2 linked regions of the Homo sapiens genome follow. The protein of the gene in region 2 interacts with the protein of the main gene of each other region in a biochemical or structural test. Each region holds a gene or a part of one and is shown on either strand. Other genes may lie near its edges.

Region 1 (3,912 bases), on a different chromosome or scaffold from region 2:
TACTAAAAAGCTTAGGAGTCATTTATATTAAATAGGCTTAAAAGTGACAAAACAGGTAATGTTCCTTTCCCAAAATAATCACAACTTTTAAAACGGAAAGGGGGTGGAAGAACCAGGAAAAATAAAATGAAACGTTTTAGAAAATTAAGCCAACTCCACAAACTTTAATTTCCGTCAACTTGATCACATCTTATACAGGAGACACCCCGGTAAATCCAGCTTTCTTAATGTGAATGAATGTTCCAAATGTTGTGGTGTGCCACTCAAAAGACCCCCATCCGTCTACAATGCATATGCTGGAGATAAATTCACCTCTGCTTCGATGCATTGGGTGCATTGTTAAGATGATTCCAGTGCAAATGAAGAAGCGATATCGGTCCCGTTAAAACTCATCTTCCAAGGAAGCGCAGGATGTTAACTAACAAGTCACCGTTCCAGACACCCCCACCCTCGTATGCACCCCCCTGAAGACAAATCAATGAAATATTTGCACCGACAATCTAAGTGCGGTAAGGGCATGCACTCATCAAGATTTTGCATACTACTTGTGGCCCAAAGCAAGAGGATGGAGAGAGGAAAAACTCTCCGGCGCCCCAGTCATTCGCAATCCGCTACCCAAGTGCCATTTATTTATTTATTTTATCAGACTGTTAAACGCAGCGCGCATCTTCGGGCGGCCATCACCTCACTCCGGGGTCATCCTCCTCCTCCTCCTGAATGGACCTTCTTGCCCAGGTCTAGGATATTTACATGGTCAACCTCTGGACCGATTAAATGGAAAGATAGGTCTATTCCGAAAAACTGGTCGCCATTTTGATGAATGATAAACACAGAAATGGAAATGTGTCGGGGACACCTAGGCGCGGGGCAGGTGCAGGGGAGGGGGCGCGGGGCAGGGGCGCAGGGGCCGCCGGGTTCGGGCTGGAGGTGTCCGGGCCGCGGGAGGGAGGGAGGGAAGGAGGGAGGGAGGACGGCGAGGGAGGGAGGCAGGGGCGGGCGGCGGGGGATGGGGCCAGCGGGGAGGTGGAAGCGATACCCACCGCCCGTATTGGTCCTCTTGGTGCTGCCGGCTTCAGGGGGGGCTTCCAGCGGCCTTTTCCGCGAGTCCGGCGGGTCCAGGTCTATGGGAACCCCAGTGTGGGTCCCGTTCTGCTGGATGGGAGCTGCCGCCATCATGTTTGCAGTTCCTGCCGCTGCTACCGGGAGAAGGTTCTCCCTTTTGTTTTGGCTTTTTCTTTTCTTTTTTCTTTTTTTTTTTTTTTTTTTTTTGCGTTTGGGGTTTCTTAAGGTTTTTTTTTTTTAATCGGATCAATATAAATCTCTTTAGGAAAAAAAGCAATGTTGCTGGTTTGTTCTCACTGGGGAGGGGGCAGGGCTGAGGAGCAGCTGCAGTGCAGTGTCAGAAAGGAGACAGGGGAATGGAGGGGGTGTGAGAGACGGAGGGTGAAAGAAGAAGAAGAAAGGAGACAGGGGGAGAGAGTGGAGAAGGGAGAGGGGCGAGTGAATGAGCGGGAGGAGGGGACCGGGGAGGACAGGCAGAGGGAGTGGGAGAGCGCGAGGGCTGGCGGGGCGCGGGGAGAAGCCGAGGAGGAGGGGAGAGTGAGGGAAAGAGTGAATGAGCAGGAGGAGGGGAAGGAGGTGGATGCCGAGAGAGGAGCGAGCGGCAGAGGAGGGCAGGAGCCGGGAAGGAGCGCGGCGGTCCCCGCGCCGCGCTAGCGTTGCGCTCGCTCCCGCTGCTGGTGCTGCCGCCGCCGCCGCTGCCGGAGCGGTTCTGCCGTTGCCTGGGCTGCTCGGCGCTGCTGCTGCTGCCGCCCGGTCTCGCTCATTATTTCTCCCGCTTGTTGGGGGGGGCTGGCGGGGAGGGAGGGGGGTGGCTGTGAGGGGAGGGTAGAGAGGGGTTGAGTTCGTAGACTCCCACACACTTCGCGCTCGGGTCCCTGCCTCTCAGCAGCGCCGCCGCCTCCCAGCGCCGATGCTTCAGCCGGCGGGGCGGCTGAGGGGTGAGGGGGAACTCCGCGGGCGGGGGCGAGGGAGCGTGTGTGCGCGAGCGTGTGCGCGCGCGAGGGGAGCGCGTGCGCGGTGAGGACGCGCGCCGGCGGTTGGGGCGGGGGCGGGGGCCGGGGCGCTCCTGTGGGAAGGGAGGGGTGAAAGGTCGCTGGTCCCCGGCAACACGGCTCAGGCAAACGTAAGCGGCTTGTCGCAGAAACCAAGGGGTCCACGAAACGCGCTAGGCTAGAAGGCGGGAAGGAGAGATTACTGACAGCCGTGCCAGCCAATAAAATAGAAATGTGAGAAAGGTTCTTCGGGCCCCTTCCCAATCAGGAAACTTGGGTGATGAGGGGCAGCGAAGGGGTGGGGTGGGATCTTGGTCCAGCTGGTACTGGAGCGGCGACAATTTTGGCTAGTCTAAGAAGGGCATTCGAGTGACCGTTGACAACGGGTGGGACAGCGTCAGAGCTGGAGGGAGAGCCAGCACTGTATGCTTCCAGGACTTCTTGCTAGGTGCATTAGTTTTTATTTTTAAGAGTTGGGTAAAAGACATTAATTAGTTAGCATCTCACTCATCGGCGATTTTCTACGGTATGATTTCATCCAAAGAGGATTTCTTAATCGCACTGTGTGACACCGTTAGGGGACTTAGAGTGTCACTCGCCGCCTTAAATCCTTTCGGGAACAAGCCAGGATATAAATAAATAAAGCTAGGTGTGGGTCTTCCCTTCACAAGGCGCTGGTAGGCAGACTAAAGACAGGCAACAGCTGAGTGTGCACACAGAACTAAATATTGAACGAAATACGAGTGTCGGAATAAAATTCATTGCCATGTGCACGGCTTATGATTATACAGATCTTGGACATATCACGGACCTGAACGTCAACCCTGCAACACCGGATAAAACATCTAATGTAGCTGGAATAGACTCTGAAAGGACGTTAGGCATTATCTAAATCAAGTCCCTCATTTTACAGATGAGTAAACTGACTCAGTGAAGTATTTTGCTCAAGGTCGTTCATCAAATTAGTAGTTTAATTAACTCAGTGTTCTAGGAAGCAGGGTAGTAGAAAAGCATGGGATTCGGAGTCTGAAATCTTCCTTGGTTTCTGGTCCTTGTAGGCTGTTTTACAAGTGTATCTTGGGCAAATCCCTTAACGTCTTGCCATTTATTAAGGGCTTACTTACCACGTGGCAAACAATCCACTTTGCATGCTGTGTCAATTACATGCAGTATGTCGTGTAGTTATTACTGTCCCCATTTTATGAGGTAGTTTAGGTTTAAAGATATTAGAAATTTACCCAAAGTTACGCAGTTATAAACATTGTAGTAATTTCAAACTCAGGTCTTCGTGACTGCAAAGGCTGCTGTCTTAAGTATTGTAATACATTAGAGCTCCGGATTCCCTCCCACTCAAAACAGAGACTGAGACTCCAACCAATTTCCACCATTATTGGGAGTCAAACGAGAGAGACTGTGGCAATGTATTCTAAGCTGTACAAAGGTATAAACATATTCACTAGATTTGTAGAATGAAGTTATTCCTTCCCTATACTTTCCACTACAACAATTCAGCCAAAAAGATGGCTTTCATACTAAGCATAAGAAGGAACTTCACTGTAATTATGATATTCTAACCAAGAATATATGCATATCTAGGCAATAACCAAAGTGAATAGAATAAAATTTAATTCCTGATAGATTAAATAGGCAATAGCAAGGAATGCTAACGCTCCTCATAGCGTTCTTGTTGGAAGAATCATCTAGGAGGCATTGGGATTTCTGGTGCTTTTTAAGCAATGAGAGATATCAGTCCACTGAATGAGGAAGAGAATAACGTTTAGTTTCGGACTAAAAGTTCATCTGGACTACGGAAAACACGTTTGCCTCAATCAGTGAAGAAGGTATGCTGAGAGCTGAA
Region 2 (3,912 bases):
TGCAGGCCGTTCACCAGGCAATCAGGAAAACGGCCTGCAGGAGGCTTACTTAAGGAGCCGAGTGGATTTGAAAGCAGGAACAGAGGCAGAATTTGCACACGTCACGTTCAAACCAAGAGAATGGGCTTTCCAGAAAGCGGGGGGATTAGAACAGACACATTTCTGGCTTGAGAGGCCCCTGAGTCACTCTGCCTTAGAAGTAAGGCGCTGGCCTAACCAACCCATGAAGACCCCTCCAGCCTTTCACTTTAGGGCTTGGTGTGAGTGCTTTGCTTTCATCTTCAAACATACACAGTGAATAATAGATTTTGAATGTTTGCTGGGTGAAGCATCCCTCCTATAAGCTCCATAATCCTCATCGTGGTACAGTTTGATGATTAATGTCTGTACTCCTAACTAGAACAGATTTCAAGAGGGCAGGCACTGTTGGTCTCGTTCACCACTACATACACAGCCTAGAACAGCTGCTGTGCAAAGCAGGTGTCAATACATGTCACCAAGCAAATGAATTCACACGATAAAAAGTTCAGGATCATGACACTCAAGAAGTGACTCTGAAAGGCATGAGAAAACAGGCAACCGCACAAACAGGGCTGGAATACCAGGCTCCCTGAAGCACTGTGTACACTGCATTCCTTCCATCAATACATACTGAGCACCCATGATGTGCCAGGTGCCCCTAATTCCTGGGACCATGGGGGAAAACAGAAAGACAGGCCAGGCATGGTAGCTCACGCCTGTAATCCTAGCACTTTGGAAAGCCAAGGCGGGTGGATTGCCTGAGCTCAGGGTTTCAAGACCAGCCTGGGCAACACAGTGAAACCCCATCTCTACTAAAATACAAAAAATTAGCCCGGTGTGGCGATGTGCACCTATAGCCCAGCTACTCCGGAGGCTGAGGCAGGAGAATTGCTTGAACCTGGGAAGCGGAGGTTGCAGTGGGCCAAGATCACGCCACTGCACTCCAGCCTGGGCGAGAAAGTGAGACTCTGTCTCAAAAAAAAAAAAAAAGGCAGAAAAACAAGTTCCCCACCCTCATAGGCCTAAATTCTAGAAGAAGGAAATAAACAGTAAATAAATAAAAATGGGTAGGTATAGAACACGTCAGGGGGTAGGAGGTGCTGCTGAGAGAAATAACTTAGGAAATGAGGACTGGAGAGGACCTGGGGAGGGTGAGAGGTGCTACTCTTGAGAGAGGGATTAGGGGAGGCAATTCAACAGAGGCTGGAAGGAAATGATGGAAATTAGTGGGAGAACAGGGTGGAGACCTGAAGAAAGGGCACTCCAAGCAGAAGGAACCGCAAGTGAGGCAGAATGGGCTTGGTGTGTTCAAGGAACAGCAAGGAGGCCAGTATGGCTGAAAGAGAAGAAACAAGCAGGATTATAGAAGGAGAGGAGGCCAGATAGGGTCAGAGGGCCAGGTGATGTGAGACACAAGGCTGCCAGAGCAGAGGAATGATGCAGCAGGAACTGCATTGTAAAGGGGATCATTGGGGCCACTGCGGAAGGTTGAAAGGGAGGAAGAGCGGAATCAGGAAGTCAGGGCCAGGCGCAGTGGCTCACGCCTGTAATCCCAGCACTTTGGGAGGCCGAGGCTAGCAGATCACGTAAGGTCAGGAGTTCGAGACCAGCCTGGCCAACATGGTGAAACCCTGTCTCTACTAAAAATACAAAAATTAGCTGGGCGTGGCAGCACGTGCCTGTAAGCAGCCCAGGTAGGAAGTCATCAGCGTGTGGGTGGTATTTTCAGTTACGAGACAAGATGAGGTCACTAACGGGGCAAATGTGGAAAAAGGACGAGATGCTCCGAGGACTGAGGACTAGGGATGCCATGGCTCAGGCGGATCAGGAGGACCCAACAGAGAAGACCAGAAGGCACAGAGAAGAAAAGGGGCAAGGTGTGGGGTCCCCGAGCAAAGCATTTCAAGAGCATCACTGCCCACAGGCAGCACACCAGCACAGGGCGATGGCACCAGCCAGATCCGAGCTTAAACCTCACTTACCAACTGTGCAATCTTGGGCAAGTCACCTCTCGCTCTGAGCCTCAGTTTCCCCACCTGTCTAACAGGGGTGCTGGTAGTACTTGACTCATTGGGTGTTTGGGGAATTAATAAGTTTAGCTCAGTGCCTGGTACAGAGTGAGTGCTCACAGATTGTGGGGCTGCAGCTGTTAGCACCTGGGAGACTCCTGCCCAGGTTCCAAGACCACAGACTCAGGTTCAATCCTAGTACCAGCCAGCGAGATTCATGGAAAGAAAATCTGTGTGGTACTGGCACCGCTGCAACTAGGAATCCTGATCTCTCCCGCCCCAACCTCACCCAGACCAGCCAACTTCTCACATCCTTAGTCACGAGAGCAGAGCTTCCTGAACTGTGGGAATGGAGATGATTTTAGATGGTAAAGGGACACCCCATAAAATGAGTGAATCACAGAGTGAGCACGTCAGCCCATTACAGCTGTCTTCCAGCTCTTCTAGGTGCGTCAAGAGAAAGTCCCACGTTGATGCTACCATGTTTGTAATACCTTCTAGCACGCTACAAAGAGAAAGCAGGCCCTAGGCTCATCACCTCAACCACACCAAGCTGCATTTCAGTGATAGGGCTGGAGCTTCTTCAGTTTCACTGAAGTGGTGTTTGTGATCACCTTCTATTTATGGCAAAGGATACAGATTTTCCATTTCTAGAGGAGATACGAAGTTTTCTTTCTACACAAATTTGTGGAAGTAAAAATATAAAAGAGATGATTTAAAGAAAATGTCAAGAATGCCAGGCACGGGGGCATGCACCTGCAATTCCAGCTACTCGGGAGGCTGAAGTGGGAGCTCGAGGCCAGCCTGGGCAATATAGTGAGACCCTGTGTCTAATAAATAAATAAATAAAATGCCAAGTGCATGTGAATTAAGTGGCTTAAGGTGTGGAGGTGGTGGTGGAAGAGGCATTAAGGAAGATATCCGCAGGCAGTTCTTGAATGCCTGAAGCTTGTGAAACACTCCTTTTCAAGAACCCAGGGAAGCCTGTAACCCTAGCACTTTGGGAGGCCAAGACAGGAGGATCGCTTGAGCCCAAGAGTTCAGTGAGTTATGATCGGGCCAGTGCATACCAGCTCTTCAGGCTGGAATGAGCTATGATCAATTCTAAGCTGCAGTGAGCTATAATCACGCCACTACATTCCAGCCCTCCAGCCTGGGTGACAGAGCAAGACCCTGTCTCTTAAAAAACAACAATAACAACAACAAAAAGCAAGAACCCAGGGTATATGGCCTAAGGCAGCCATCCCACCCCTGAAGAAGCAAGTCAGAGTCCCAGCCACCTGCCAAGACTCAAGAATGTTCTACAGGGAGCAGGGATAGGGAGAAGGAGCTGGGCGGCAGCCAGGACTCCCAGTCCATGTGGGGCCCTGCCCCCACCCCAGGTGATAGGCAGGGGCAACTTTGGGCCTCACCCACCTGGGTGGGACAGGCAAGCTTGTCTGGGGGACTGCCAAGGAGGGTGTTAGCCTTTCACCCCTCTGCCAAGTCCCCATGTGCCCAGTGACCTCCAATGCAACCCCCACCCTCCTAGAGCTTTCACCACTCAGGGCTACACCAAAAGAGCCCAGCTGGGACTTTCCTCAAGACCTGCGACCTAAGTCACTGGGTCTCAGGCCTGGTCGGTCTACACACCCACCCCTCCAGGGGGTCAATAGGAGTCAGGTGCACTGTGGCCTGGATGGCAAGAGCAGGCACTCACTTATAGACAATGCAAGGCCTTGAGCTAAGAGCACCTACCCCATTCCCAGGCACTGAAACAAGATGGGACCTACTATGCACAGTGGGGATCAAAACTGACCTCGATCAGGAGTTCAAGACCAACCTGGCCAATATGGTGAAACCCCATCTCTACCAAAAATACAAAAGTTAGCCTGGTATAGTG

Evidence for each region.
Region 1: the proteins of HTR6 (region 2) and NOVA1 form a complex in vitro, tested with the Homo sapiens proteins (one study listed by BioGRID).

What each region holds. Positions count from the first base shown.
Region 1 is NC_000014.9:26,596,261-26,600,172, forward strand, and holds the start of NOVA1 (RNA-binding protein Nova-1), read right to left. Parts: upstream 1,774-3,912; 5' UTR 1,177-1,773; coding exon 1,041-1,176; intron 823-1,040; exon of another isoform or gene 338-822; coding exon of another isoform or gene 313-337; intron 1-312. UniProt on the Homo sapiens protein: Functions to regulate alternative splicing in neurons by binding pre-mRNA in a sequence-specific manner to activate exon inclusion or exclusion. It binds specifically to the sequences 5'-YCAY-3' and regulates splicing in only a subset of regulated exons.
Region 2 is NC_000001.11:19,667,567-19,671,478, reverse strand, and holds part of HTR6 (5-hydroxytryptamine receptor 6), read right to left. Parts: intron 1-3,912. UniProt on the Homo sapiens protein: G-protein coupled receptor for 5-hydroxytryptamine (serotonin), a biogenic hormone that functions as a neurotransmitter, a hormone and a mitogen. Also has a high affinity for tricyclic psychotropic drugs.